7 linked regions of the Homo sapiens genome follow. Changing the gene in region 1 together with any one later gene gives a genetic interaction. Each region holds a gene or a part of one and is shown in the gene's direction. Other genes may lie near its edges. The genes, in order: GTF2E1, COPE, PFAS, AURKA, SLC39A9, CARS1 and PPIE.

Evidence for each region.
Region 2: changes in GTF2E1 (region 1) and COPE together harm fitness less than expected from each alone (positive genetic interaction), as found in Homo sapiens cells (one large-scale study listed by BioGRID).
Region 3: changes in GTF2E1 (region 1) and PFAS together harm fitness less than expected from each alone (positive genetic interaction), as found in Homo sapiens cells (one large-scale study listed by BioGRID).
Region 4: changes in GTF2E1 (region 1) and AURKA together harm fitness less than expected from each alone (positive genetic interaction), as found in Homo sapiens cells (one large-scale study listed by BioGRID).
Region 5: changes in GTF2E1 (region 1) and SLC39A9 together harm fitness less than expected from each alone (positive genetic interaction), as found in Homo sapiens cells (one large-scale study listed by BioGRID).
Region 6: changes in GTF2E1 (region 1) and CARS1 together harm fitness less than expected from each alone (positive genetic interaction), as found in Homo sapiens cells (one large-scale study listed by BioGRID).
Region 7: changes in GTF2E1 (region 1) and PPIE together harm fitness less than expected from each alone (positive genetic interaction), as found in Homo sapiens cells (one large-scale study listed by BioGRID).

Annotation. Positions count from the first base shown.
Region 1 is NC_000003.12:120,766,213-120,770,491, forward strand, and holds part of GTF2E1 (general transcription factor IIE subunit 1), read left to right. Parts: intron 1-4,279.
Region 2 is NC_000019.10:18,905,322-18,909,600, reverse strand, and holds part of COPE (coatomer subunit epsilon), read left to right. Parts: intron 1-2,488; coding exon 2,489-2,641; intron 2,642-3,665; coding exon of another isoform or gene 3,666-3,734; intron 3,735-3,971; coding exon 3,972-4,025; intron 4,026-4,279. UniProt on the Homo sapiens protein: The coatomer is a cytosolic protein complex that binds to dilysine motifs and reversibly associates with Golgi non-clathrin-coated vesicles, which further mediate biosynthetic protein transport from the ER, via the Golgi up to the trans Golgi network.
Region 3 is NC_000017.11:8,262,340-8,266,618, forward strand, and holds part of PFAS (phosphoribosylformylglycinamidine synthase), read left to right. Parts: intron 1-580; coding exon 581-654; intron 655-769; coding exon 770-926; intron 927-1,235; coding exon 1,236-1,297; intron 1,298-1,435; coding exon 1,436-1,597; intron 1,598-1,872; coding exon 1,873-1,998; intron 1,999-2,130; coding exon 2,131-2,262; intron 2,263-2,555; coding exon 2,556-2,786; intron 2,787-2,948; coding exon 2,949-3,129; intron 3,130-3,216; coding exon 3,217-3,300; intron 3,301-3,522; coding exon 3,523-3,678; intron 3,679-3,894; coding exon 3,895-4,014; intron 4,015-4,161; coding exon of another isoform or gene 4,162-4,184; exon of another isoform or gene 4,185-4,279. UniProt on the Homo sapiens protein: Phosphoribosylformylglycinamidine synthase involved in the purines biosynthetic pathway. Catalyzes the ATP-dependent conversion of formylglycinamide ribonucleotide (FGAR) and glutamine to yield formylglycinamidine ribonucleotide (FGAM) and glutamate.
Region 4 is NC_000020.11:56,388,814-56,393,732, reverse strand, and holds the start of AURKA (aurora kinase A), read left to right. Parts: upstream 1-1,517; 5' UTR 1,518-1,565; exon of another isoform or gene 1,566-1,942; intron 1,943-3,067; exon of another isoform or gene 3,068-3,177; intron 3,178-4,919. UniProt on the Homo sapiens protein: Mitotic serine/threonine kinase that contributes to the regulation of cell cycle progression.
Region 5 is NC_000014.9:69,401,451-69,405,729, forward strand, and holds part of SLC39A9 (zinc transporter ZIP9), read left to right. Parts: intron 1-4,279. UniProt on the Homo sapiens protein: Transports zinc ions across cell and organelle membranes into the cytoplasm and regulates intracellular zinc homeostasis. Participates in the zinc ions efflux out of the secretory compartments.
Region 6 is NC_000011.10:3,015,145-3,019,423, reverse strand, and holds part of CARS1 (cysteine--tRNA ligase, cytoplasmic), read left to right. Parts: intron 1-156; coding exon 157-285; intron 286-674; coding exon 675-804; intron 805-883; coding exon of another isoform or gene 884-912; coding exon 913-1,016; intron 1,017-1,469; coding exon 1,470-1,567; exon of another isoform or gene 1,568-1,568; intron 1,569-2,128; coding exon 2,129-2,318; intron 2,319-3,574; coding exon 3,575-3,643; intron 3,644-4,279. UniProt on the Homo sapiens protein: Catalyzes the ATP-dependent ligation of cysteine to tRNA(Cys).
Region 7 is NC_000001.11:39,748,471-39,752,749, forward strand, and holds part of PPIE (peptidyl-prolyl cis-trans isomerase E), read left to right. Parts: intron 1-432; coding exon 433-618; intron 619-4,279. UniProt on the Homo sapiens protein: Involved in pre-mRNA splicing as component of the spliceosome. Combines RNA-binding and PPIase activities.

The DNA of each region.
Region 1 (4,279 bases):
ATTTGTGGCATGGAGCCTGAGTATAAATTCCACTGGGGATTTTTATGCAGACACTCAGTTAAGAACTGCCTTATTGAGAGGCCATCTCAAGCCACTCAGGCAGATCAATATATGTAAATATTAGTTTTCATGACCTCAGTGTCTTTCCTAACACCCTTCTGTGGCTTTCCTATTACTAAAGAATAAAGTCAAAATGAAGCTTATCATTCAAGACCAATTTATGGTCACCCCAGTTTATCTTGTTAAGTCTGTTTTTTATCATTCTTTTTGATAACTGTTTTCCTATCAGACTGAAATTGCAGTCTAACATCATTTTTCAACCACCCTACTTCTCTTATGATGATCTAGAATGTCCTGTTCCCTTACCCCTTCATCTTCTCCTTCATCTTTTATCTTCTAAACTGTCTCTCAAAAAGGTTTACCTTCTCAATAAGCTTTTCCTAGTGTCCTCAGCTAGAAGTCACATTCCTTCTTTGAACTCCAAAACATTTATGTACTTTATTTTTTGCACTGATCCCTGATTGTTTTATCTCCAGACATCTTTCTTCCCTACTAAAGCTTCTTGCTGACTGGTTCTGTCTGTGTATGCCACCACCACTCTCTCAGTAGCGTGGGTGCCTGCTTGCTACATAGTATGTGCTGGGTTTCCGTGTCCTCCTGCCCCTTGCCACTTGCCCCTTCTGATTTCAGGAAAACTGATTTGCATTTTTACAATGCGTAGTGAAATGTATAAAAAATGCTGCTGGTATATTAAACTGGTCTTAAGTCATTTTCTGTAAAATGTCAAATTTCTTACTTTTCTTGCATTTTTTAGGGTCCCAGAAGAAAAATAAGAAATTCTACATTTGGCTTTGACAGGCTTCTCATTTATAACTAATGTTTTTGTGATAAACACAGGGCTCAGAGATGTCAGGCTAGCTTTTCCTTTTGTAATATTTGCTAGATGTGGTATTTATTGGGAGACTATTCTCCATGGGTCTCTCACATGTTATGCATGTCTTGGCAAGCAGAGATACAGACTGACTGCTTTTTTTCCTGGACTATCATTTTCAAGGATGTTTATATAACGAGCAGCCTTGCAAGACAGAGATAGTATTTCTCTTCAGAGCAAAGAGCAGGTTTGCTTATGGTCCAGTATAAAAAGTGTCTCCTTCCAGAGCATGTTTACATAGAGTTTATAGTAAGTAAGGATAATGCCACCCTCCAGTGCAAAGAATGGGCATGCTTATGCCCATTATAAAATATTTGAGTTCCTTTTAAGCTCAGGCTCTCTTTCCTGTAACACAACCCATTGCATGTGTAATTGTTACCTGGCCCTTCTATCGCACCCCATGGAAATTGGGGCATGGGGAACTGGCTTAAATACTGACACTGGCTACTGCTATTTCCTTGAGTAGTGAAGTTCTTTGTCTCTGACCTGGGGTCTTGTGTCTTCTGCCAGTATCCATGAAACTGGCAGAATAACTTGTTAGCTTACAAGTAGGGTAAAATCTCAGACCCTTCACAGTTCTTAGTAATAATGTTAAAGCTGCTGTTTTCATACCTGCAAAATCAGCCCTTCTGTAAGTAACTCCTGTTAAGTTTGGATGAGATTAGAATTTAGGTGCCTTATGACTATATACTTTATTTTTCCCCCTATTCTTTTTCATGAAAATAAATTACTCGAGTTAAAGGACTGTCATTCTGAGATTGTCCTTCTGTGAAATAATGATATTAGTGTTGTTCTCTTTCTCTCTTTTCCCCAAATAAAAGCACTGCTGTTTTATGAGGATGAGCTACACTGACAAGCATGTTGATTTGTTTACTTAAAGCTGAAGTTTGGAGTACATATTGTCTTAAAATGAGAAATGGGGTATTTGGGAGGACATTTTTTTAAAATTCGGGTATAACATGACTTTTTAATGATAAATTAGATAAATAATAAAACATGTTGGATAATGATAATGCTAAGGGAAAAGAAAATGAAAGAGGATACGATTGTTTGGGTGGACAAGACAGTTGAAATTTTAGATAATGTTGGCTACAGAAGGCCTTACTGGTGGCTTCTGAGTAAAGAACTGAAGTAAGTTTGGAGATGAGCCATGTGATTTTCTGGAGGGAAGGCATCTGGGTAGAGGGCACAGCAGTGCAAAGGCTCTGCAGCAGAGTGTGCCTGATGGGAGACATTGAGGAGGCCGGTTTGTGATGCTTTGAAAACAGATAATGAGAGGGTTGGAGTATTAACCTTTGTCTTAGCTGTGTTTCTATACTTTACCCCAGAGCATTTGCTTTTATGTTTATATATTAATCACCTTTCCATTTGAGAAATGAGATTCCTTTCTTTAAAAACATTTTGAAAACTACAGAACTAGATAACTTGTCTTCCAAACTATTCTTAGTTCTCATTGACAGTCTCTGTAGGTGCTTATTTTTCAACAGTCAATTTAAGTCCCAGTCTCACATTGGTGTGTTTTTTAATTCAGCAGGTATTCGAGAGCTATATTCAACCCTACTTTATGTGGTTTATTTTTAAGCCCCCACATGATTATATTCCTTGCTTCTGTTGAAGAGAAGAGGCTGAGACAGCTTGGAACAGTTGGAGAATAATATAAGATAACATTCTACCTAAAACCTTTCTAGCCAAGGTTGCTTCTTACCCTTTGTTACCAAATATAAAAGCTAGTTTTCAACTCTTGTTGGCCTCTTAATATTAGGACCATACATTTCCTTGAAACACCATCCTGTCACTCTGGTTGCACCATTTCTCTTTCTCAAGGATTCCTCATTCCTTGAGTTTATGCCTTAACTGCTTCTTCTCACTCTCCTTAATCTCTTCGGATGCTTCTATCTACTATATGGCTTCAGTTACCACCTATAGGTTGTTGATTCTCATATCTAAATTTGTAGTCTAAACCCCTCTCTTGAGCTGAATTGTTAGCATTTGTAATTAGTTGGCTTTTTACATATTCATTTTTATATTTAAAGCAATTTGATATCTTTTACCTAAAAAAAAAAAAAAAGCTAGTTCTTCCTCTCTTTACTTTGGTATAATAGTATTCTTGTCCAGTTGATTAAGTTATAATCTTTATGTTCGTGACCATTAGTCAAAAGCTATCAGGTACGCACCTGTAGTAAACAAAGTTAGGTTTATTGATGCTTTCTGCAGCAAGGGAAGCCACATACCATGGGGAAACCATGAAATGTCGGTAAGATGATGTTGGACAGACTTAGAGAATGTGGGCTTTTGTTGGGTAATTTTGGGGAGGATTCAGGGAAGTGATGAAGGTTTCCTTTGGATTGGATGCTGTGAAGAAGTGGGGATAATTCTATGATTGGGTATCTTCATAAATCTTATCTAGGAGGTGACAAGAACAGAGTGACGCTAAAACTAAATGGTAAAGAAGCAGCAGTCACTTGTGCAAGATGGGATTTTTTGTGGTTTGCATGGAGTCCTTGCTTTTGTCTGTTCTCAGACGCAATTCCACAGTGGCTTGGGTTTGCCTCACTTCCATCATAGTCTGATGTTAGTGATCTGTGAGATCTTGTTTGACAGAAAAATGCCACAGTCTAGCTGTGAGTGCTGAGCCACCTCCTAGCTGTGAAGGGCTGCATTTCTCTCTCTTTCTCACTTATTTGGGATAGATGTAGATTAGGTGGCATTTAGACAATAAGAAGATGTATTTTAGGGTATTTGAACAAATAATTTACATGCTATTGGCTATGTGTGAGGGGCAGTAAAGAAAATTATTATACTGGTAATGTATCAGTAGGATCTAGTGTTATGTTGAAGTAGAGATCACTTGGTTGTTTGTTCTTTATGTATCAATCATACATGGGGCCTTTTATAGCTAAATGTTTGAGTACTTAACTATTTGCCAGACACTAAGTACTTACATGTTCCCTTTTAATCTTTCAAGTAAGTTGAGTCAGAAAGGAAGGATGCATATTCCTGTCTTTGGGAATAAGAACCAAACTGGAAATCCAGGTGTGGCTAGTGGTGTAGACTGTTAAGTAATGTTTAAGAGTGTGAGTTTTAGCATAATAGATTGAATTGATTAGATACAAATGGTTAATAAATTTTAAAAAATAGCCTGTGACAATGTTCAGGATGACTAGAAACTCTTGGTTTTAGGTATTTATTTGGCTTTCCCCATAACGTAGGCCCAAATGTGTAATGTGAAAACAAAAAAGACTAAAGCTGCCAGGAAAGGGTACAAGTTGTGGTGGTAAGCTGTAAAGAATTTGGCTTTAAGTTAAAATAAATACATATTAGAAATATTGTGATTAAAAACTATGCTGA
Region 2 (4,279 bases), on another chromosome or scaffold:
GTTGCAGTGAGCCAAGATCGCACTAGTGCACTCCAGCCTGGGTGACAGCGGGAGACTGTCTTAAAAAAAAAAAAAAAAAAAGGAAAGAGGCCCACAGAGTTAAGCCCATGTGACAACAGACTGGAGTGACATGTCTGCTAGCCAAGGAGCACCACGAGTGGCCAGCAGCCACCAGAGCTGGGAGAGAGGCCTGGGACGGCCTTGCCCTCCAGCCTCCAGCTGGAGCCAGCCCTGCCGCCACCTTGACTTCAGACTTACGGCCTCCAGAGCTGTGAGGAACGAATCCCTGTTGTCCTTAACTGCCCGGGCTGTGGTGCTTTGCCACAGCAGCTCCAGGACATTGAGACAGGTGACCTCCCAGGGCCACTGTTTCTCCCACCCTGCACTTACTTCACCAGCTGGAGTGAAGGCAGGGAACCCTGGGTCCCCCAGGAGCAGCAGCTGCTGTGAGCATCACAGAAAAGCAGCCCCGGAGAGCAGGCGGTCCAGGCAGGGGCTTGTGGTCCGTTCATCTGGCTGCACAGCCGCGACCTCATTGGCAGGACGCCCCGGGGACAAGGAGCATCCATTAGTAATTGGTTTTGGTTTTGATTTTGTTTTCTTGAGATACGGTCTTGCTCTGTCGTTCAGCCTGGCATACAGTGGCACAATCTTGGCTTACTGCAGCCTTGATCTCCCAGGCTCAAGTGATCATCCCACCTCAGCCTCCCGAATAGCTGGGACTACAGGCACGCATCACCATGCCTGGCTAATTTGTATATTTTTTAGAGATGGGGTTTTGCCTGGCCGGGCGCAGTGGCTCACACCTGTAATCCCAGCACTTTGGGAGGCCGAGGCGGGCGGATCACGAGGTCAGGAGATGGAGACCATCCTGGCTAACACGTGAAACCCCATCTCTACTAAAAATACAAAAAAAATTAGCCGGGCATGGTGGCGGGTGCCTGTAGTCCCAGCTACTCGGGAGGCTGAGGCGGGAGAATGGCATGAACCCGGGAGGCGGAGCTTGCAGTGAGCCAAGATCGCACCACTGCACTCCAGCCTGGGCGAAAGTGCGAGACTCCGTCTCAAAAAAAAAAAAAGAGAGATGGGGTTTTGCCATGTTGCCCAGGCTGGTCTCAAACTCCTGGGCTCAAGCGATCCGCCCAGTAATTGATTTTGTTGCTGTTGCTTGTTTTTGAGATGGTCTCCCTCTGTCACCCAGGCTGGAGTGCAGAGGTGTGACCACAGCTCACCGCAGCTTCAACCTCCCGGGCTGAAGCCATCCTCCTGCCTCAGCCTCCCAAGTAGTTGGGACTACAGGCGCCACCAGGCCCAGCTGACTTTCTTACTTTTTTGTAGAAAAAGGGGTCCTACTATGTTGCCCAGGGTGGTCTTGAACTCCTGGGCTTAAGCGATCCTGCCTTGGCCTCCCAAAGCGCTGGGGTTACAGGTGTGAGCCACAGTACCCGGCCCCATTGGTAATTGTAACACCTTAGGATGACAACATTACAGTACCAACGCTACGACAACTGGCAGTGTTTATACACCCTTGTGTGCTGGAGCCTCAGGAAGCTTTGTAAGATGGTCTTGGGAGCTCCTTGCTCCTCCCCTGCATGATCCCTGTAACATGGTCCCTCAGCACGGGGAAACAGACTCAGACCTGAAGTCACTTGTCTGTTGGACCTGGCACTGTGGCGAGCCCTCAGTGGAGCCTGGTTGGTATCAGACATGCCATGCCCTCAGTGACACCTCAGACACGGGCCCTGGGCAGACAGCCCCCAGATGCGCGTGGATGCTTACGGGGTCACAGAGCCACGTTTGAACCCAGAAGAACACCAGCTTTGGTCTAGGGTGGCCCCCTCACCTGCCTTCTCTTTTTAGCTGCTCAATAGCCATGGGGAATGGAGGGTCTGGGTCCAGTTAGGGACATGGAGGCATGGGTGACCTGTGCCCTCGGAGCTGAGCCGGTCCTCAGCCTTGCCTGGGCTCAAGCCTGGCCCTGGCCCGCAGCACACTGGCCATCTTCAGGGTGCAGCCAGCACCCTGGGCTCTCAGGGACTGAGGGCAGCTGCCCTGGCAGTGGGGGTGCCCCAGGGCTCCCATCCTTCTGCACGGCCCCTCGGCACCCAGGCCGACCTCCTGCTAGAAGACGTGGCCTTGAAGCCCACAGGGTTGATGGGTTATGGTCAGGAGTCCCAGCTGGGCCCACCAGCCTCCTCAGGAAGGCGGGTGAGGTTGGTGTGAGACTGACGGTGCCTCCTCATGTCCCCTTGGAGCGCCCCACCCCACATCTCCCGGCCTCGGGTCCTTGCCTGGCCCAGCATGAGAGGTGCTTCATAGGAACGGAGGGAGGACATGTCGGGACAGCTCGATGCTCGGCCTGCTGCTGCTCTGCACCCCCAGGGCCTGGCTCACCCTCTCTGGACCTGTCTGCTTCCAAGGAAGGGGACCCTCTGAGGTCCCACAGAGGCCACCCCAGCTGTGGGTCGTGAGCATCTCTGTCTTGCAGGGACAGCATCGTGGCCGAGCTGGACCGAGAGATGAGCAGGAGCGTGGACGTGACCAACACCACCTTCCTGCTCATGGCCGCCTCCATCTATCTCCACGACCAGAACCCGGATGCCGCCCTGCGTGCGCTGCACCAGGGGGACAGCCTGGAGTGGTGAGTGGCCTCCCTGCTCTGGGGCCAGCCCAGGGAGGCAAGTGCCCCCTGCCACATCTCCAGGCTGCGCACGGCCTCGCTGGCTGTCGTCATGGGAGCAGAGAAAGGTGGTGCTGAAATGAGGCCCTGGCCTGCTGTCCAGGCTCCAGCTCCCCTGCCCAGTGTGGGAGGCACTCCCATCTGCGCACCAGGCTGCAGATCCAAGGACACGGTGCCCAGGCTGCAACCCTCTGTTCCCAAGGGCAGAGCAGAAAGCGGCTTTGTCTCTGCTCGGTTTCTGTGTCCCCACCCCCCACGAAGCCTTCTGTGTCTCGGCCCTGGGCCCAGTCTCTCAGGCCTCCCCGGGCCCCCCATACCGGCCCTCCTCCAGGGCCCTCTGGGGTTGGGGTGCTGAAGCCCTGCAAGGTTGGTGCCCCCCTCCACCCTAGGATGTGACTCCGGGCCATGTCCAGGGCACTGGTCACAGAAAGTGTGTCAGTTCTTCCCCGTGAGCTGTCCCTGCAGTGCCTGCCTTCCACTGTGAGTTGCAAGCTGGGCATTTCATGGTCGCTGTGGATCTGCTCCCATCCCACCTCCATCCACAGAGGGCTTAGAATTGCAGGGCGAGCCAGGCATGGTGACATGCACCTATGTTTCCAGCTACTTGGGAGGCGGAAGCAGGAGTATCCCTTGAGTCTGGGAGGTGGAGGCTGCAGTGAGCCGTGATGGTGCCACTGCACTCCAGCCTGGGTGGCAGAGCCAGACCCTGACTCACACACAAAAAAGAAAATAAATAGGGATGTCACACTGTCGGCGAGCCGGCCGACTCGGTGCTGGTCCAGGTGCTGGCTCCTGTTGGCAGGAAAACAAGAACAAGAGGCCTCACGAGTAATTCGTGGTCACAGCCACCTGGGGCTGAGAGGGATGAGGGGACGAGGGGGCCTGCAGAGAGTGGGTGGCCCCAGGGCTCTGCTGCAGGTGCAGGTGCAGGGGCGGGTGCGTGGCCCTCCTCTAGGGCCTTGTTCCTGAGTGTTGATGCCTCCAGGGTGTCGAGTCCGGGCAGGGCCCTCCATCTGGAAGCACAGCCCATGGAGGCTGCTTCTCCAGATGGGCGGTGAGTGGGCCGGGGCCTGAAACCCCATCCTGGGTACCTCCCCCAGAGCTCCTGGGCCTGAGGAAGCTGAGCGGTGAAATGTGGGAGTGAGGGTGTCCTCCTCTGCTGGGCGGGGCTGGTGGTCCTAAGCACAGGACTTAGGAACATCCCAGACACACACAGTGAGCCCTGGGTGTGGAGCGGCCATGCAATGTGTCTGTGGCGACCCGCTGACCGCCCCCTCGCCCTGTCCTGCAGCACAGCCATGACAGTGCAGATCCTGCTGAAGCTGGACCGCCTGGACCTCGCCCGGTGAGCCCTCCTGCCCCTCTCCACCCGCACTGAGCCACAGCCCAGAGCGTCACAGCCCAGAGCGTCACAGCCCAGAGCGTCTGTGGTGCTGTCATTACTCTTGTTGTCTTTCCTTTCCATGGGGGTGGCTTGCTGTCGTTCAGCCCTTCCCTGCAGTATGTTGCCAGGGAGGAGGGCCATGGCTCTCTGTGCCTCAGTTTCTCTCTATGCAGTGGGTGGCAGGCCTCTCCCACAGGGTGAGGGTGGGCTTCATG
Region 3 (4,279 bases), on another chromosome or scaffold:
AGTAGGTGATTTTATACCTGTGCAAATAAATCAGCGGGATGACTTCCTCAAAGTGTATTTACCCAATCAGAGACTGTGTGCATTTGTCATTTTGGTTGTTATTGCCAAATCGTCCTCCGTAGTTGATATCAGTTTACTCTCCTATCAACCCAGTCAAGTGGTAAGGCTTCTGGGCTAGGCAGGGTGGCTCACGACTGTAATCCCAACACTTTGGGAGGCCGAGGTGGGCGGATCACCTGAGGTCAGGAGTTTGAGACCAGCCTGGCCAAGATGGTGAAACCCTGTCTCTACTGAAAAAATACAAAAATTAGCCGGGCACGATAGCAGGCGCCTGTAGTCCCAGCTACTCAGGAGGCTGAGGCAGGAATATCGCTTGAACCCAGGAGACGGAGGTTGCAGTGAGCTGAGATCACACCACTGTACTTCAGCCTGGACAACAGAGCGAGACTCCATCTCAAAAAAAAAAAAGCTGGTCAGGCTTCTCCCTAACATCAGCTTCCTCTGTGTTCACGCTGCCTTGCTTTCGAGGCCTCTTCTCGTGGCTTCCCCAGTGTTCTGATTCTGCCTTCCCTTCTTACAGGCATGGAAGTTGTAAAGGTTGGAGGTCCCGTCTACAGGATTGGAGTTGGAGGTGGAGCTGCTTCATCTGTGCAGGTGAGTGGGAATTGCTAAAGGTGCAGAATCCTTGATATAACCGGGCCCCAGGCATAGGGGAGCGTATAGGAGCTTCCAGTCTCGCTGAGCTGAGCTATGCCATATATGCCCCCAGGTGCAGGGAGATAACACCAGTGACCTGGACTTTGGGGCTGTGCAGCGAGGAGACCCGGAGATGGAACAGAAGATGAACCGTGTGATCAGGGCTTGTGTGGAGGCCCCCAAGGGAAACCCCATCTGCAGCCTTCATGATCAGGGCGCTGGTGGCAATGGTGAGGAAAGGAGTTGGAACAAGAGACTGGGCCTGCCTGGTATCCTGCCAGGTTTCGTTTAGGGAGAGGTATCAGGAATCTCCAACCAACCACCCAGCTCTGGGTCCCATTCTCCATGCTCTGTACATTCTAGACAGGTTCAGGGTTGGAAGGGTGGAAGCCTGCTGCCGTGGGATGATTGGTGGTAAGGGTGCGGCAGCAGTTGACACAGGAACACACCAAATTACAGGCCCCTTTGGAGGCCAGGGACTGCCCTTTGTTGCCTGACCACCACTAGGTCACTGCTTCTCCTTGCAACCCTCTCACCAGGCAATGTCCTAAAAGAGCTGAGTGACCCAGCTGGAGCCATCATTTACACCAGCCGCTTCCAGGTGGGTCTCGTCCCCTGAAGTGTGACATTTTCCCACCCCTGCCAGCCCCAGCCCGCTTCCACCCATCTCTCTTGCAACAACATGAGACGTGGGAGTGCCCACTGGCCCTTCTCTTTCCTCCCCGCCGTGGCTGTGCAGCTTGGGGACCCAACCCTGAATGCCCTGGAAATCTGGGGGGCTGAGTACCAGGAATCAAATGCTCTTCTGCTGAGGTCCCCCAACCGGGACTTCCTGACTCATGTCAGTGCCCGTGAACGTTGCCCGGCTTGCTTCGTGGGCACCATCACTGGAGACCGGAGAGTGAGTTGGCCCAGGGAGTTGGGAGCAAACACTGGGGCAGACATGAGCCACCTGGGTATGGGCTAGAGGGAGAGCTGTCAAGGGAGAGAGACGAGAGGAAGATGGGAGGTAGTGGCAAACAAGCTGTGGGGAATGTTGGATCCAAGGAGGGGCAGGGACTCAATATGGAAACCAAACAAGGAGTGGAAAGCACATTTGTGCCCTGATTTCTAGGAACATTCCTTGCTGGTGTTCATAGTCTCATCCCCTCTGGGTGGGGTCCCTGTGGTCTATAGATAGTGCTGGTGGACGATCGGGAGTGTCCTGTCAGAAGAAATGGCCAGGGGGATGCCCCCCCGACACCCCTGCCAACCCCTGTGGACCTGGAGCTCGAATGGGTGCTGGGCAAGATGCCTCGGAAGGTATGTGGGGTTGAGGGGATGGGTTTTTCCTGTGGTCCTCTCCACACCACCCTTTACCCTACGTGCACTTTGTCGCCTGTGTGCCCAGCCCGCCCCAGGTGTTCACACTGCCTGTCGCTGTCTGTGTTGCAGGAGTTCTTCCTGCAGAGGAAGCCCCCCATGCTGCAGCCTCTGGCCTTGCCCCCAGGGCTGAGCGTGCACCAGGCTCTGGAGAGGGTTCTGAGGCTGCCCGCCGTGGCCAGCAAGCGCTACCTCACCAATAAGGTCCTCCCTGCACCCTTCCTCTGCCCCCTGCCTCCTTCCTCCGCTCAGCCTCTTCTGCCCTCCCACCCTTAGAAAGTGCTGTGGGGGTTTTTGCCTGGCCCTGCAGGAAGCAGCAGGGGCAGGGCAGCCACCCTGATGGCCTGGTCTCCCTGCTACCCACCTTCTAAGTAGAGCTGTTGTCTGCATTGGGGGAAAGACAGGCCTCCCACTGCCCTGAGTGCCTTGGGGGCATGTGCGGGAGCTCAGGCTGTCCCTGTCCCTTGCTCTCTTGCTAACCCCACCTGGTTCCACAGGTGGACCGCTCTGTGGGAGGCCTGGTGGCCCAGCAGCAGTGCGTGGGGCCCCTGCAAACTCCTCTGGCAGATGTAGCGGTTGTGGCACTGAGCCATGAGGAGCTCATAGGGGCTGCCACAGCCTTGGGAGAACAGCCAGTCAAGAGCCTGCTGGACCCAAAAGTCGCCGCCCGGCTGGCCGTGGCCGAAGCCCTCACCAACCTGGTGTTTGCTCTGGTCACTGACCTCCGGGTGAGTTCTCCCACAGCTTCTATCCTGGAGCCCCCGGGCTTCAGGACCCTTCCACATCCATCTGTAGCCCTTCATTTCATGTTGCAACCTCCCAGTCCGCCTGCACCCCTGGCCTCTCCACATTTCTCTTCCCCTCTAATGCTGTGCCTCTGCCACCCCCAGGATGTGAAGTGTAGCGGGAACTGGATGTGGGCAGCCAAGCTCCCAGGGGAGGGCGCAGCTTTGGCGGATGCCTGTGAGGCTATGGTGGCAGTGATGGCAGCCCTGGGTGTGGCAGTGGATGGTGGCAAGGACTCCCTCAGCATGGCTGCTCGGGTTGGCACTGAGACCGTGCGGGCTCCTGGTGAGGTGTGGGAGCCCCAGGGAGGGGAGGAGGAACTATGGAGCTGGGTTGGCAACTCATTCCTTTGGACTCCTCCTTGCTCTACAGGGTCACTGGTCATCTCAGCCTATGCCGTCTGCCCAGACATCACAGCCACTGTGACCCCAGACCTCAAGCATCCTGAAGGGAGAGGTATGGACATGGCCCCATCCTTTGTGATCTTTGCTTGTGTGATCTTTGTTTGGCTCCTGCTTTGTGAGTGCTGGGCCCCCATCTCAACACTGGGCTGTGGTGTTTTCTGGGACTGATTGTCTAGGTGTCTCACCACATGCTGGGAATAGCAGTGCTGTGAGCCCCTCAGGGATGGGTCCTCCTGAGCTGTTCCCCTCCCCTCACCCCTCCCCGTCTCCCCAGGCCATCTGCTCTATGTGGCTCTGAGCCCTGGGCAGCACCGGCTCGGGGGCACAGCTCTGGCCCAGTGCTTCTCCCAGCTTGGGGAACACCCTCCAGACCTGGACCTTCCTGAGAACTTGGTGCGGGCCTTCAGCATCACTCAGGGGCTGCTGAAAGGTGAGTGAAGACCCCTGGGGAGATAGCGCACAGGGTGCCAGGCGTGCAGCAGGCGTTCACCATCTGAGCAGTGGGGCAAAAGGGACTCCAATGGACGATGTACCCCAGATCCCCTGACATTCTGACACACACTCTTGATGGACTGACTCCGGAAGGTGGGGTGGGGCTGTCAGGTTTGGGTCCCGAGGTTGCTGAGCTTTCTTCTCCTTCCTCCAGACCGCCTCCTCTGCTCAGGCCACGATGTCAGTGACGGAGGCCTCGTCACATGCCTGCTGGAGATGGCCTTTGCTGGAAATTGCGGGCTACAGGTGGATGTGCCTGTCCCCAGGGTTGATGGTAAGGAACCTGGGGTCTAGTCTCAGGCCCGGGCTGCCTTCTCTACCCTGCAGACCCCATTTCCAATATATTAAAGAGTGGAGTGCCCTCCAGTCCCCTTTCCCTGAGTCTTCCCTGACTAGCTTTTCTGTGCTGTCTCTCTGACAGCTGAACTGGATGGAACTGGCTGACACCCACCATGTTCCTGACTGCACCCCTCTGAGACTTCCCATCCCTGAGATGTCCATGATGAAACATCCTCAGTCCTGCCGTCCTAGCCCTCATC
Region 4 (4,919 bases), on another chromosome or scaffold:
TCTGCATAACAAACTTGATTCACCATACATTTCCTCCGTTCACCGTCCCATAACTTGTGTTAGAGCTGCTTCCCGCCCCCCGCCCCCAATTCTCTATTCATTCCTTTCAGTAGCTCAGGATGCCATGTAGGCTTTAATCATCTGACTTCAACTTTTAGTCTCGTATTTTGTGGGACTCCTGTACGTAATTAAATATCGTTTTTCTCCCATGGACAATGTTCAGTTACCCGAAAAAAATGGGAGATTCTTAAGTACCAATAAAGAATGAAAATCACAAGTGGGTAGTCTGGCAAAGAAAAGTTGATGAGAGATTCTACTGTTAACGTTGGGTTAATATGACTCGAATAATTTCCGTATGCTAGCTCAATGCTTTACATGCACATCCTGTTTACCCTGCAGTAATCTGTTAATTCGTCTTATGTGAATTTAACTCTTAGTCCTAATAAGGTACCTGGAAGGATGGAGGGAAGCCATTTTTGGTTCCCCTACACCACTGTTCTATCCGGTCTCTTCACTTCTGCTGAGCACATCCCGGGTGTACATACACACACACACACACACATATGTGTGTGTATATATATGTATATGTGTGTGTGTGTGTATATATATATATATTTTAAGTGGCCCACCCCTAACTTCTCAACTCCCACAGAACGTTCACTCGCCAGGTAAACAGAAGCCTAATTATCCCCAATTTGCAGGTGAGCACACGAGGACAAGAACCCGATCCAGGACCGGATACATCGCAGTTGGAAAGGCTAGAACACAGATGCCCCCTCACTATATGCGCCGCGACCATCTGGATGCAGAGGCGAACTAAGGACTGGGTGGGAATGGAAGCGAGGCCCTTCGAGAAGAGGAAGGGGTGCAGGCCAAGCCGGGCAACTTAGGAAACGCAAAGTAGAGGCGCATGCCACCTTGCTAACTCTCGACTCTTCCAGTCTCGCCCCAGTCGTTTCTGTGGTTTTCTCTAAATGCCCCAGCCGACCGCACCAGCTACTCTCCCCGTGTCCCAGTACCAGCTGGTCCGGTTCTCTTGGTATCCCGCTCTCTCCTGGAAAAATGGAGGCGCGAATCCTGCCCAATCTACCGCTCCGAGCGCACGTTCACTGCGCACGCTGAAAGGGCGCCAAGCCGACCGCTGCGCTATCGATCGGTCCCACTCTCTCTTGCTTTTCTCGCCATCTTACTTACTGGCACGTTCAAAGGTTAGTTCACCTCCTTGGACTTTATCTCCAATGCGTCAAGCTTGACGTCAAGGGGCTGTTGCTTCACCGATAAATGGCCGACCGCGGAGAGCACCCTGGGGCTGGGACTGCCACAGGTCTGGCTGGCCGTTGGCTCCACCACTTCCGGGTTCTTAGGGAGCAAGTGCGCCTGCGCGCGGTGTGCGCCCTTAAACGCGACTCAAGGCGTCGGGTTTGTTGTCAACCAATCACAAGGCAGCCTCGCTCGAGCGCAGGCCAATCGGCTTTCTAGCTAGAGGGTTTAACTCCTATTTAAAAAGAAGAACCTTTGAATTCTAACGGCTGAGCTCTTGGAAGACTTGGGTCCTTGGGTCGCAGGTGGGAGCCGACGGGTGGGTAGACCGTGGGGGATATCTCAGTGGCGGACGAGGACGGCGGGGACAAGGGGCGGCTGGTCGGAGTGGCGGAGCGTCAAGTCCCCTGTCGGTTCCTCCGTCCCTGAGTGTCCTTGGCGCTGCCTTGTGCCCGCCCAGCGCCTTTGCATCCGCTCCTGGGCACCGAGGCGCCCTGTAGGATACTGCTTGTTACTTATTACAGCTAGAGGTACAAGGGGTTTGTTGAGTGGTGTTGACATGCGCGGGAGGGGTGGGTGGGCTTCAGATTGGATTTTGTCCTCCGAGATCACCTGGGTAAGAAAAGCACAGAAGGTCTCTGCTGTGTTGGAGTTCACGTTCTAGTGGGTGGGGAGACAGACGGTAAGCGTACGGAGAACTTGCAGCTGGGGTGGGTGTTACAGAGGAAAAGCAGGAGTGCGGTTTAACGGGGGCCGCTTTAGATAGAATAGCCTAAGAAGGCCCTTGTCCTGGCTGGATGAGTGGGTGAATTGATGAATGAGAACCTCCTTGCAGAGGCCTTCCCGGTCCGTACTTCTCAGACCGTAGACCTTGGAGCAGTTGTACCGGGATAACTTGCAGTGCTTGTTAAACATATAGCTCCACCGAGAGCCCGGTAAATCAGAATCTCTGAGGGGTAGGACCCAGGTGTCTAGTTATTAACAAACTCTCCAGATGATTCTTAGGTTTCATTGAGAACTAGGGATGCAGACCGGTGCATACAAATCGTCTGGGGACGTTAAAATGCAGAATCTGTTTTTTTAGACCTGGGGTTAGGCCTCAGAGTCTCCATTTCTAAGAACCATCCGGCTGAGGTAGACGTAGCCACTGTCCTTAACTCTCGTAATGTCTCTTCCTCTTCCGTAACCTTCCTTGTCCCTTGAATTAAACGTTTTTCAGCAACCTACTCAGTTCGTCCTTCCCTTCATCTCTGCAGACATGCACAGGTCTGAGGGAGGAAGGAATAAACCGTATAAACCTCCTGCGCTATTAGCCTAACAGCTTTTCTATTCAAAATAGTAGGACTTCTGGTTTGAACTGAATGGATCCTGTGAAAGTCATCTGGTTCTTCAATCTGGTTGCAGATTAGAGTCACCTGAAGGGCAGTCTCCTTGGCGTTGTCTCCAGAATTCTGGATTAGAATCTTATTCCATTCTGCTTGTTATTCAATTTCCCTAGAAAGAAAGGTAGAATAAATTGGAGCAAATGCCTGTAGCTTCTGTCAGAAGAATGTTGAATAAATGTTGTTAGGCCTATGTGATCTCATTAGACTGCTACTTAGAATTGTAAGGGAAGTAAAGCATTAGAGCATGTGTGAAATTAAATATTTGATTAACACAAGTGTGCATTTCCTTGTTGCTGTTTATCAACTTTTACTTACCCACTGTTTTTTTATAAGGGCTGCAGCCTGTAGTCTGGGCCTGGCTTCATCATGGAATTATTTGCTTAATTGTAAAATGGTAATCTTAATTTTTTTTTTTGAGACAGGGTCTCACTCCATTGCCCAGGCCAGAGTGCGGGGATATTTGATAAGAAACTTCAGTGAAGGCCGGGCGCGGTGGCTCATGCCCGTAATCCCAGCATTTTCGGAGGCCGAGGTGGGTGGATCACCTGAGGTCGGGAGTTCCAGACCAGCCCTACCAACATAGAGAAACCCTGTCTCTACTAAAAATACAAAATCAGCTGGGCGTGGTGGTGCATGTCTGTAATCCCAGCTACTCTGGAGGCTGAGGCAGGAGAATTGCTTGAACCCAGGAGGTGGAGGTTGCGGGTGAGCCGAGATTGCGCCATTGCACTCCAGCCTGGGCAACAAGAGCAAACTCTATCTCAAAAAAAAAAAAAAAGAAACCTCAGTGAAATGAAAGACTGAACTACACACCTGGGGGAAAAGCGTAATAAAGGGAGCAAGAAGTGCAAATGCTTATGGCAGGGGACTTATTTGCAGAAAGAAAGCCTTGTGTGGCTGGTACACGGTTGACAAGAAGAGGAGATGAAGTCAGAGAGGTAGTTAGGGTCCATGTTCTGTGAGACTTCAATAGGCCTGTCTATGCAGGTTAGGAGTTTGCATTGTTTTGATTGAGTTGGGAGCCATGGGGGTCTTCTGAACTGAGGATCAACACATCTGATTTGTTAATGAGATTGCCGGCCTCAGTGTTAAGAATGGACCATGACAGGGTAAGGGTGGAAGTGGGGAGGCCATTGGGAGGCTGTTGGAAAAAACTCAAGGGAGAGAGAATAATGGTTTGACCAGGTGGTAGTAGTAGAGGTGGTGAGCAGTGATCTTGAAGGCAGAGCCTACAGAATATGCTGGTGGATTAAATGAAGGGTTTGCGAGAGAGAACCTCGTAAAGGGTTATTATGCCAAGGCTTTTGGCCTGAGCAACTGACAGGATGGGTTTGCCATGCACTGAGATGAGGATGTCTAGAGACTAGATTTGGGGAGGTGAGAGTGGGGAGAGATTAGGACTTCTGTTTGGGACATGTTAGAATGGAGATGCCGCTCAGATAATCAGGTGCAGATGTTGCATAGAAAGTAGAAAATGTAGATCAAGAGTTCAGGGGAGAGGTCTGGGCTGAAGAATGAATATTTGGGAGTCCTCAGCCTGTAGATGGTACTGAAAGCAAAGAGACTGGATGTACTCGGCTAGGGAGTAATTGGAGATGGAGAAGTCATTCTAGGCCTGAGCTCAGGGCACACCCATGAACAGGGAGGTGAGAAGTGGAGAAGGGAAGAGGTTCAGTTTTGGATATGTTAGGATTGAGGTGCCTGGCAGACATTTTTGGGAGATCCTGGGCAAATCCTTGGATATCCAAGTCTGACAGTCCAAGGAGAGACTAGGGCAGAAGACGCACTTTGAGTGGTCCTCATGAAGGCATTTAGAGCTGAGGCACTGGGTGATATGGATCCCTGGTGAAGGTGTAGATGGAGAAGTGGAGGGTCCAGGGACTCGTTCTTGAGTCACCCCAGACCCTTGATCTGGCAAAAATGAGACTGACCCAGCAAGGAGGGAAAGACAGGACGACTAGGTGGTAGATAAACCTGGAAGTGAAGTGAAGAAAAAAGTGTAAGATGTGATCAACCTTGTCAGATTCTGCTGAGGATGCAAGTACGGGGAAGGTGGAATTGACCCTTGGGTTTGGCAGCAGTAGGTGTCAGCCATGAGCCTGACAATGTGGTGGAGACAAAAAAGCCAGGTGGGGATGGGCTCAGGGGAGGGGAGAGGAGCAGTAGAGGTGGCAAGTGTGGACGGTTCTTCTGGAGCTTTGCTGTTGGAGAGGAGGGGGTCATTGTTAGCAACGATAATAGAATAAAGAGGACTTTTATTTTATTTTATTGTTT
Region 5 (4,279 bases), on another chromosome or scaffold:
ATTTTTAAACATATTGAAGTAACATTTATGAATAATCATAATTAATTCTGATAAGCAACCAGTAAAACTTTTTATTTCTATAAAATGCCTTTAACTTTACCAATTCCAGTATTTTTTCAAACTACCTTGAATGATTATTGCAATATGCGGATATATACTATTTCCTTTTTCACTAGAAGGAAATGTTTACAGGAGTGGTGTTAATAACTGGGTCATTAATACAGATAATTAGTATGTCATGTCATTTGTGGCTTTCTTAAATTGACGGTCAGATGGTCTTTTCCAGCTGTAGGTCTTAAAATGCTAAAATCAGCATTCATAATATCTGTTTATTATTAGAGTAGATGCAATGCATTTTGAGCTATTAGAATAAAAAATGAAAGTTATATATAACTTAAAGACATCCTAGAATTCAACTAGGATTTCTATCTCCTAGGAACTAAACATATTTTCTAGGTAAATTATGCCATTATTATGGACCAATGTTGTAATGAAACTAGTGAGATGGTAAATTTGTAAAAATAAATTTCATTCACGGGGGACTGGAAAGCACCATTTCTTTCCTTAGAAAATAATTCCCCAAACTCCTACACTGGATAAATGACTTGCCTTTTTAAGGAAGTCTGGCTTTCTTAGAGGCTAGTGTTACTGTTTTACAGTTCACTTTCGTTTACATCAGGGGTGTCCAATCTTTTGGCTTCCCTGGGCCACATCAGAAGAAGAATTATCTCAAGCCACACATAAAATACACTAACACTAAGATAGGTGATGAGCTAAAAAAAAAAAATGCAAAAAAAAACTCATAATGTTTTAAGAAAGTTTATGAATTTGTGTAAGGCTTCATTCAAAGTGCTCCTGGGTTGCATGCGGCCCACGAGCCATGAGTTGGACAAGCTTGATTTACATGAAAAGATATGCTTTTTATTCATGTTTTTAATCTTGCTGCTGCTTTCTCATTCAATACTTTTTCTAAAAATATCTCAGAACAGGAATAAAAGTCAGATGATCAATTATGGCAAGATTAGTATTTAAAAACGAGTTAAAATTAGGTAGTCTGAAATTGCAGTAGTGGTGGGGTCTACCTGCCAGATGTGCCCACCAAGAGGTTTATGTGACATTGATTTCTCTGTCAGTTTCTCCTCACCCCAAAACTACCTTTCTTGATACTTTTGTGGCCTTCTTCCTTGCCCTTTGACCTGGCAACTGTACTTTCATGCCTTAAAAATTTATAAAACAAAGGAAAAAAAATCCGATTCTCAAATGCAATTATAAGTAACTATGATAATCAGGATGTAAATTTTTTCAGTATACAGGAAAGAGAAACACTTTTAACTTTTAAAGGAGGCCAGCCAGGTGCTAAGTGGCTCACGCCTGTAATCCCAGCACTTTGGGAGGCTGAGGTGGGCGGATTACCTGAGGTCAGGAGTTCGAGACCAGCCTGGCCAACATGGCGAAACCCCATCTCTACTAAAAATACAAAAATTAGCTGGGCGTGGTGGCATGTGCCTGTAATCCCAGCTACTCAGGAGGCTGAGACAGGAGAATTGCTTGAACCCAGGAGGCGGAGGTTGCAGTGAGCCGAGTCCCACCATTGCACTCCAGCCTGGGGAACAAGAGCAAAACTTTGTCTCAGAAAAAAATAAAAATAAATAAATAAAAATAAATAAATAAAGGAGGCCAAAGCATGCTTTACACAAAGGAAGCCCTGTTTGGTAAGGGAGTGAGACCCGTTGGTTTATAGTTAACACTGTCTTATGTTTTTTCGATTGAATTGCTAATGAGTAGTTTTCTTTGGCTCTAAATAACAATGTTACATAAGTAGGTTGAGAGCCTATATTACCTAGTATAAACTCAGTGCTGCTGCAGTTGATAAATGGAGCTATGATACAAAAACAGATGGCTCAAGTGGGATTTCAGATTGATTATCTGAGGGTTGTTACTCACCTGAGTATGTCTCCTCTTTGTCACAGAGCTGGTAACAGAGAGCAAGCTGTTTTTGGCTCAGAGCTCTACAGCAATATTCCTCAAACTGCCTGGTAAAGGATCAGTTTTTGTTTTTAATTTTTATTTCAATCCATACCAATACACTTATAAAAATGAAATAGTAGGAAAATGAAGTGAAAAAAAGACATAGAAAATACAAGCCCAAATGTATTGTTAAATTCAACAGATAAAAAATTACTACTATAATTGTAATAATCATATTGCTCTAAAAATTTCTGAAGGCTTTATCTCAGTTGCCATACTTTTCTTATTGCAGACCAGTTTGAGTTATAATGCCACATTTTTCATGTATTAAAACAGCAAAGCAGGCCAGGCGTGGTGGCTCACGCCTGTAATCCCAGCACTTTGGGAGGCCGAGGCAGGCGAATCATCTGAGGTCGGGAGTTCGAGACCACCCTGACCAACACGGAGAAACCCTGTGTCTACTGAAAATACAAAATTATTTGGGCGTGGTGGCACGTGCCTGTAATCCCAGCTACTTGGGGGGCTGAGGCAGGAGAATCGCTTGAACCTGGGAGGCGGAGGTTGCAGTGAACCAACATTGCGCCATTGCACTCCAGCCTGGGCAGCAAGAGCAAAACTCCCTCTCAAAAAAACAAAAAACAAACAAACAAAAACAGCAAAACTGGATGTAGTGGCACACACTGGTTAGTCCCAGCTACTCCAAATGCTGATGTGGGAGGATCACTTGAGCCCAGGAGTTCAGGGTTGCAGTGAGCTATGAGTGTGCCTGTGAATAGCCACTGGCAACATAAGGAGACCTACTCCCTAAAATAACCAACAGCATAAATCCATAAGTTGGCAGATGAAAGTAGTGCTATTCTTAGGATGATTTTAAAGATGAATATGATTAATAATGCACTGATTTCAAAAGGGACTGTCTGAGACAGTATCATTCAAAGTCAATGTTACTACTTGAACAAGCTATTAAAATCCAAATCTCTTCTGTTAAATGACCTTCTAGGATTGTTGTGAGGTTGAAATAATATAAGCACAGGCTTAACACTATGTCTAGAACATAATAAAAACTTTCAAAAATATTGAGGCAGATTCTCAATACTGATTAGAAAAACTTGTAAAGATTTTCATTTTTATAACTTTGTTCTAATTTATAATTGTTAAACCTTTTATTTGGAAACAGACTTAATAATGGGAAGCTCCTCCCCCTCCTCCCCTTCGCAGTCATGGAAACTTCTCGGCAATTTGTTTGGAATCCAAAGGTCTTGTTGTGGGGTTTGGTTTGCATTACTATTTACCATTCTATTTGGAGAGGCCAGGGCTTTTCCTCTACCCTCCCTGCTTTATACTATTTTTCTTAGTATTTAACTCTCTTTTCTTCATTATACTTACTCTCATTTTAAGCTTTGTTTTGTTCTTTCGTGTTTTAAAGTTTTGTGTCTGTATTAGTCCATTCTTACACTGCTAATAAAGACATTTCTGAGACTGGGTAATTTATAAACGAAAGAGGTTTGATTGACTCACAATTCAGCATAGCTGGGGAGGCCTAAGGAAACTTACAATCATGGCAGAAGAGGAGGCAAACACATCCTTCTTCATGGGGCGGCAGGATGGAGAAGTGCTGAGCAAAAGGGGGAAAGCCCCTTATAAAACCATCAGATCTCGTGAGAACTCACTGTCACAAGAACAGCAAGAACTCACTATCACAAGAACAGCATGACCTCCCACCAGGTCCCTCGCATGGGAACTACAACTCAAGATGAGATTTGGGTGGGGACACAACCAAACCATATCAGTGTCTGATTATAATAACTGACTCATTCATAATAAGTATCTTTAGGGGTTTGAGTTACCCGCAAATCAAAGGTTTATTGTGTCTGAAGAACAGATTTATTCAGTATGCTTCTGCCTCTACAATAGGTTCTCTTTGAAGTAGATTTAACAATGTTACATTTTTAAGGACTTTTATATTGTCTGGTACATTGCTCTTACCCTCTTATGGTAATACAAGAGATTTTATACCTGTTTGGAATTTCATTTGTAAATTCTAAGATTTGAGCCGGGCATGGTGGCTTATACCTGTAATCCCAGTGCTTTAGGAGGCTGAAGCTGGAAGTTTGCTTGAGGCCAGGAGTTTGAGACCAACCTGGGCAACAAGTGAGACCCTGTCTCAGATGAATGAACGTAAATTATAAAATTTTAAACTTTGCAATCTCAGTAAATTTATCCATATCTGGAAAGAAATCATCAGCTTGTCTTTTCTCAGATTGAACTACAGATTATTGTTTCATAAGGATCCTTGATAAAACTAAGTTTG
Region 6 (4,279 bases), on another chromosome or scaffold:
TCGCCCAGCCTTCCCTTAGTCTTTTCATGTGCGGGATTTAACGCTTGTTCCAATAAAGTTCAGAGGATGTAAGGGCCATCAACTTGGAGTGATAAGTGATAAAGGCCTGGACAAGCGGGTAGGCTGGTCAGTCACTGTGTGTTCGGCTTTCTCCAGGGTCGTCCGGGCTGGCATATCGAGTGCTCGGCCATGGCAGGCACCCTCCTAGGGGCTTCGATGGACATTCACGGAGGTGGGTTCGACCTCCGGTTCCCCCACCATGACAATGAGCTGGCACAGTCGGAGGTAGGTGAAAACAGAGTCCCCTTGTCAGGTGCAAGAGCACAGTGTTCATACTGCAGTGGAGGAAAAGTCAGCCCAGGCCTCAGAAGGGCCTCTCTCACTAGAACTTGACACCTTCATCGGGGCTTGTGGGTGGAATCTGAACCCTGATCATTTAGTGTGGTTTCCGCATTGACAGCCTGGCCTTTGGCAACAGACTAGCCTGGATTTGAACCAGTTGTGTTACCTGCTGGCTTATTAACCTGGGCTGTCCTTCCAAGCCCTGCCTGCACCACCTGGAAAACGCAGCTCCTGCCTGTGGACAGCACCAACAAGGCAGCAGACAGTGCAGGTGGCAGGAGGCGGCCCCAGTAACACATGACTGTTGACATCCTTTGTCTCTTTCCACGCAGGCCTACTTTGAAAACGACTGCTGGGTCAGGTACTTCCTGCACACAGGCCACCTGACCATTGCAGGCTGCAAAATGTCAAAGTCACTAAAAAACTTCATCACCATTAAAGATGCCTTGAAAAAGCACTCAGGTATACACTGGCTTCTCCCACAGACCCCCCAACCACCTTCTCATACATGTGTAATGGCTGTAGCACTCGGGAGAATAAGGGCGTTGGCTGTCTTGTGTCCCCCCACAGCACGGCAGTTGCGGCTGGCCTTCCTCATGCACTCGTGGAAGGACACCCTGGACTACTCCAGCAACACCATGGAGTCAGCGCTTCAATATGAGAAGTTCTTGAATGTGAGTCCCCAGCCCCTTCCTGGAGGTTGGTGGAGCAGCCTCCCCTGCACAGTGGGCACCTTGTGCAGTGGTGATAGGTGCACCAGCCTCCCGATGTCTCTAATGGAGACCAGCACATGGGTGGAAGCACCTCCATGCTAGTGGGTATAACAGGCTCGGGGCCACTCCTGAAATGGCTGACGGCTCAGCAGAGTGGACAGAGGCCTCGTCCTCCTAGTCACTGCAGTGCACGTCCTTCTGACTTGTACTTTCCACCAAATGAGCATCTGTAAACCTAAAGCAAGAGCATGTTTCTGTCAAAGAAATATCTTTTCCTTTCTTTCTGACCACTTGTGTAATTCTGGTCTTTCAGATTTTTACCAAAAATAAAATCACAGCAGTAGAAAGTTGTAACAGATATTTCAGGATGGAAAAGTTGCCTAAATGCTGTTAAACTGATTTTTCTAACTTCAGGAGTTTTTCTTAAATGTGAAAGATATCCTTCGCGCTCCTGTTGACATCACTGGTCAGTTTGAGAAGTGGGGAGAAGAAGAAGCAGAACTGAATAAGAAGTAAGGTGGTGCCATTTCTTTGGGGTTTTTGAGCATGCCCATGTTCTATGCCTAGCCTCGCATCTTGGCCACCATGTGTCCTGGACTGTCGAGGAAGGGCTGGGGACACTGTCGTACGTTGTGCAGAATTAATTCAGGATAGGCGGCTCTGCTAATGGGAGCTGCTCTGGGTGTTGAAGTGCATGGAGAATTTCTTTTTTGTTTTTTCTTTTTGAGACGGAGTTTCGCCCTTGTTGCCCAGGCTGGAGTGCAGTGGCGTGATCTCGGCTCACCACAACCTCCACCTCCCGGGTTCGAGCGATTCTCCTGCCTCAGCCTCCCGAGTAGCTGGGGTTACAGGCATGCGCCACCATACCTGGCTAATTTCAGATTTTTAGTAGAGGTGGGGGTCTCTCCATGTTTGTCAGGCTGGTCTCGAACTCCCGACCTCAGGTGATCCGCCCACCTCAGCCTCCCAAAGTGCTGGGATTATAGGCGTGAGCCACTGCGCCTGGCCACATGGGGAATTTCTATGGTGTGTTTTCAGGTCTGACTTCACATTCCTTCCTCTTTGTTGCTCAGCTTTTATGACAAGAAGACAGCAATTCACAAAGCCCTCTGTGACAATGTTGACACCCGCACCGTCATGGAAGAGATGCGGGCCTTGGTCAGTCAGTGCAACCTCTATATGGCAGCCCGGAAAGCCGTGAGGAAGAGGCCCAACCAGGCTCTGCTGGAGAACATCGCCCTGTACCTCACCCATATGCTGAAGGTAAGCCAGGCCCCAGGCAGGCGTATCCCTCAGCCTGTGTGGACACAGGAGCCAGGCCCCAGGACTGGGAGAACAGAGGCCTCTGGTGCCCCCCAGTGCTGTGCCTGGTGCCCAGCACCTCTGAGACGTGGAGATATGCTTCTGTCCTCTTTGGTTCCTGGTGTGCTTTTCACGCGTTAGAAATAACACCCATAAGCGGAGCACAGTGGCTCACATCTATAATCCAACACTGTGGGAGGCCAGGTGAGTGTATCACCTGAGCCCAGGAGTTCAAAACCAGCCTGGACAACATAGTGAGATCCCGGGTCTATAAAATATATTAAAAATTAGCCAGGTGTGGTGGCACACACCTGTTTTCCAGCTGCTTGGGAGGCTGAGGTGAGGGGCTCGCTTGAGCCCAGGAGGTTGAATAGTGAGGTGTGATTGCACTACTGCACTCCACTCTGGGCAATAGAGGGGAGACCCTGTCTCAAAACCAGACAAAAATAAGTAACATCCATATAGTTGTCCTTACTCAGAGCTATTTCTTTCCTTTGACTCCGTTTCCCTCTACTCCCATCTTGGAGTTTGAAAAGCAAAACCACGCCAGGCGCTGTGGCTCACGCCTGTAATCCCAGCACTTTGGGAGGCCAAGGCGGGCGGATCACAAGGTCAGGAGATGGAGACCATCCTGACTAACACGGTGAAACCCCGTCTCTACTAAAAAAAATACAAAAAACTAGCCAGGCATGGTGGCGGGTTCCTGTAGTTCCAGCTACTCGGGAGGCTGAGGCAGGAGAATGGCATGAACCCAGGAGGCAGAGCTTGCAGTGAGCCAAGATTGCGCCATTGCACTCCAGCCTGGGCGACAGAGTGAGATTCCATCTCAAAAAAAAAAAAAAAAGAGAAGCAAAACCAGGGACAAGGCCTCCTCTCTGAACACATCCTGTGCAGAGCCCTTCCCCGCAGTGCACCTTGAAAGGCCAGCAGGGCCTGGACTCAACTCCCCTCCCCTCTCCTCCTCTTTCCTTGTTGTTGGGCTCCAGTGGCTTCTGGCTGAAACAGAGCTGGAGAGGGTAGCTGTGAGTCAGGGCCATCCTGGAGCAATGAGGGCACCCTCAGGCTCGGGTTTCTGGGGCTCCTGGAGCTGCTGCTTCCATCTCTTTCCTGGTCTTGGGGCACCCCCTCCCGTGAACGAGGAACACAGCTCACAGCTGCTCGCCACATGCCGCCTTCATCTTGCCGCAGCTTCAGGTCCCATCTGTTTCTTTTCCTAGATCTTTGGGGCCGTAGAAGAGGACAGCTCCCTGGGATTCCCGGTCGGAGGGCCTGGAACCAGCCTCAGTGTGAGTAGCATGCAGGGTCCTGCCTTCTGCACCTGCTCCCTCCCCACTCCCTACCCCTCTGTGTCCCTCTGAACTGCCCCTCCTCTGTCTGCCCACCCACACCAGACCCTTCCGGACAGCGCCTCGAGCTAAATGGCAATTCTGGCTCTGAGAGTGCTAAGTGTGGTCAGCTGCCCTGCCGGTGTGGAGGGTCTGCTTTGGTTGTGACTGTTGGTTTGGGGCACTTTGCCATTGTGCTGTCCCATGAGCTTGGTCTTGGACCCCAACTACATAGGCCGCTGCTTATTTGCATTTTGCTGCGGCCACTTGGCATCATGAACACACATGACTTCGTCACATATACTGACCTGTATTCAGTAAATGCTTCATCGAAAGGCTGCAGAGCTCACAAACAGCACAGAATTTACACTGATGGGGAGATACGCCACTGTCTGCCTCGGTCCCCATGGGGCTGGGCAGATGCCCTAACAGGCCCAGTCCTGACCCTGAGCCCAGGTCGGTCCACATGGCCTGAGCCAGGACCCCCTGCCCCAGAGCTGTGGCCCACAGGTCAGGGGGAGGTCATCCTGTAGAGCCCCCTGTCTAGTGGGTCTGTGCGGTGAGAAAATCCATCCAGAACACCCTGGCAGTCTGTTG
Region 7 (4,279 bases), on another chromosome or scaffold:
TTTACACCTGTAATCCCAGCACTTTGGGAGGCCAAGGTGGGCGGATCATCTGAGGTAGGAGTTCTAGACCAGCTTGGCCAACATAGTGAAACCCCATCTCTACTAAAAATACAAAATTAGCCAGGTGTATGGTACATGCCTGTAGTCCCAGCTACTCAAGAGGCTGAGGCAGGGGAATGACTTGAACCCAAGAGGTGGAAGTTGCAGTGAACTGAGATTGTGCCATTGCACTGCAGCATGGGCAACAAGAGTGAAACTCCGTCTCAAGGAAAAAGAATCCCTTATAGTCCTTACAAGGTTAGTATCACAAAGGTTTATAATGAGTATCTCTTATTTTAAAACAAAAATATGAACACTAAACCAAAGTTTTTTCGAGGTTTTTTATTTTGTCCTATTTTTTAACCCCAGCGCTTTTTCCTTTCTCAATTCCAGAGAATTTCCGCTGCCTGTGCACTCATGAAAAGGGCTTTGGCTTTAAGGGAAGCAGCTTCCACCGCATCATCCCCCAGTTCATGTGCCAGGGCGGTGATTTCACAAACCACAATGGCACTGGGGGCAAGTCCATCTATGGGAAGAAGTTCGATGATGAAAACTTTATCCTCAAGCATACGGGACCAGGTAGGAGCCAGTTGGCATGTGGTGACGAGGGAGGCTGGGCAAGGGTGGGATGGCCAGGCAGGATGGAAGGACAGGTTGTAGTTCTGGCTGGCGGACACTAAGAGTCTGGAGGAGACCCAGCCACCAGACATAGGAGAACCATGCAGCCTTGCTAGGGTGGAGTTGGCTTGTTGACATTCAGGTACTGTTCATCCCCCAACCGTGTCCACAATTCCTATTAGCCCCGCTTGGATTCTGTGGTCTGCTGTTGCAGGCTCTTATGCTCTCAACCCCACTGCTCTCCCTGCCCTCACCATCAGATTTACTCAGTAAAATCTCGGTGGTTAGTCCCCCAGCAACTAGAGAAAAAACACAGAATTGTACTGAACAATCCCACTTGAAATTTATAACTATAGTTCTTAAGGGGACCCTTGCCAACCTGACCAGATTTCCCTACTTGATGCTCAGTCCCAACCGGAGATGATGTGTCCATGCCCGTCTTCACTTCTGAAGCCCTCATATCATCACCTTCCCACCTCATCTAATGCTTCACCTCCTGCATCTCTCCACTCGTGCATGCTCTTTCTTCCAATTACAGGGGATGAGCTGTCTCTCCTAGGCCAGCCTCTCCACCTGTGGACTGGATCCTGTCCCTCTCCTCTACTTAGGAACATGGCTTCTAAAGTTGTCCCCTTCTTGTAATCCATTTCCCCTGCTCTGCTAGATCAGTCCATTAGCATGAAAGCATGCAGTTATCAACCTTTAAAAAAAATCTTCATCCGGTTGCCGGGTGCAGTGGCTTAGTCCTGTAATCCCAGCATTTTGGGAGGCAGAGGCAGGCGGATCACCTGAGGTCAGGAGTTGGAGGCCAGCCTAACTAACATGGAGAAACCCCATCTCTACTAAAAATATAAAATTAGCCGGGCGTGGTGGCGCGTGCCTGTAATCCTAGCTGCTCGGAAGGCTGAGGCAGGAGAATCACTTGAACCTGGGAGGCGGAGGTTGTGATGAGCCAAGATCGCACCATTGCACTCCAGCCTGGGCAACAAGAGCGAAACTCCGTCTCGGAAAAAAAAAAACAAACTTCATCCTTGTACTCTTGTTCCCTCTCCAGCTATCACCCATGCCCCTGGTCCCCCATCTTTTTTCAAGAAGTAAAAGCATAACTTCTTGAAAACATGGTACAGACTTGCTGCCTTCGCGTTTTCTCTAATCCCTTCTAGGCAGACTTCTAGTCCCATCTCGCCATTGAAACCACTCTTGCCAAAAATACGAGTAGCCAGTTCTTGGCGATCATCTTATCCCACCTCCCAGATGTTATCCCACCTCCCAGGAGCATTTCATACTACAGGTTGAGTGTCCCTTTCCTGAAATGCTTGGGACCAGAAGTATTTTGTATTTTGGAATATTTGCATTATACTTACCAGTTGAGCATCCCAAATCTGAATATCTCAAATCTGAAATGCTCGAGTGAGCAGTTCCTTTGAGTATCATATCAGTGCTCGTGAAGTTTCAGATTTTGGGGCATTTTGGATTTTGGATTTTCACATTTGGGATGCTCAGCCTGTACTAACTCTGTTCTCCTTGACTCCTTCTTCACTTGGCTGGCAGGACTCCTGCCTCTTCTTGTCTCCTTTTACCTAGATGGCTGCTTTTTCTGTCTTTGCTGTCTCCTTCTTTTCCTGACCCTTAAACACTGAAGTGGCTCAGAGCCCATTCTTTGGTTCTCCAGAAGCCTGTTACCCTGTGCTCCGTTTTTCTAACTGGTGGTTTGTAGGGCCCCTCTTTACTATACTGAACTGACATGTGTAGGTGATATAGCCCACTGACCCACATCGTTATTTTAAAAATCAGTATTCATCTGTAACTATAATAGGGAAGAACATCAGAGGAAATAAACGAATTTGTATAATACTCGAATATGTTTCCAGATGTACATGCTTAAGCACAGCTGTGTCAGAACACAAAGTGAATTATTCAGGCGTCTGCCCCTGTACTCAAACGCAGCAGTTAGAAATGCAGACGGGAGTGTCAACTGGATACCACTAGGAGTGATGCTATTGGTGATACGGCTTTGTGAAATGGTAGATAAAGTTGATTAGAGTCCAAAGTAAAGAATAATCTGTTTATTTACATAGTAGTTACATTCCTAGAAGATTCCATGGAAAATCAAAAGCACTCCAAAACTTTGGGCTTATATGTATAATGGAATTATGTTTTAGGTGCAGATAACTGTAAACACATTTTTTACCTATACCAATATCTGGCAGGATATTTGTTGTTTTGTTGTTGTTTGGTTTTTGTTTTTTTGAGACAGGGTCTCTTTCTGTTGCTCAGGCTGGAGTGCAGTGGTGCAAGACGGCTCACTGCAGCCTCAACCTCTCCAGCTCAAGCAGTCCTGCCTCAGCCTCCCAAATAGCTGGGATTATAGGTGCACGCCATCCATAATGCCAGGCTAATTTTTAAGTTTTTTGTAGAGACAGGGTTTCATTATATTGCTCAGGCTAGTCTGGAACTCTTAGCTTCAAGTGATCCTCCCACTTCAGCCTCCCAGAGTGCTGGGATTACAAGCATTAGCCACTGCGCCCAGCCTCTAGCAGGATGTTTGTAAGGGCCAAGAGGATATGAGACAATTCATTGTGCCAGACATTGCAGAACATCTAGCATTCCAGGCCCCCACCTGCTAAATGCCAGTAGCACCCCCACAATATTTCAGACAGTCAAAAACACTTTCAGGCCAGGCACGGCGGCTCATGCCTGTAATCCCAACACTTTGGGAGTCTGAAGTGGCAGCCCAAAGCCAGAGGATCACGTGAGTTCAGGAGTTCGAGACCAGCCTGGGCAACATAGTGAGACCCTATATCTACTGAAAAAAGAATAAAAAAATTATCCAGGTGTGGTGGTGCACGCCTGTAGTCTCAGCCGCTTGGGAGTTGAGGTGAGAGGATTGCTTGTGCCCCAGAGATTGAGGCTACAGTGAGCTGTGATGCACTCCTGTACTCAGCCTGGGTGACAGAGTGATCCCCATCTCAAAAAAAGTAAATTCAGATTTCCAAAGGTTTCCTAGGGACAGGACACCAACCCCACTGAGAAGCAGTGCCCTAAGCAGTCACACCCGGTCCCAGGGCTTTCAGCGGTATCTCTGAGTTAAGTTTGTGCAGACTGGCATCTGCATGCTGATGGCTCCCTGAGCTCCAGACTCCTGTCCAACTGCCTGCCTGTTGTCTTCACTGGATATCCCACGAGCATCTCACACTTTACATGTCTAAAACAGCTCTTGGCCTTCTCCCCTAAACTCTTCCTCCTCCTCTTCCCTGTTTCAATAAATGACTCCACCATCCACTTAGCCGCTTGATCAGAAACTTAGGAGTCATTGTGGACACACACACACATACATACATGTACACATACACACACAGACACACACATATACATGTACATTCTCTTACGTGACAAATGTCCATGTTACCAGGCCTCACTGTGTCATAGCTGTCATTTTGAATGGCTCTTTTCCACTGATTGTGAGCTCCACCAGAGCTTGGACTATGTTCTGCTCATCAGTGTTCCCAGGGCTTAACAGGGACCTGGTTGTCAAGTAGACACTTAATTGTTAAATAAATGAATTAATGAAAGAACAGACCAGTATAAAGTGATTGAAACACCTCACTTACCATTTCACTGA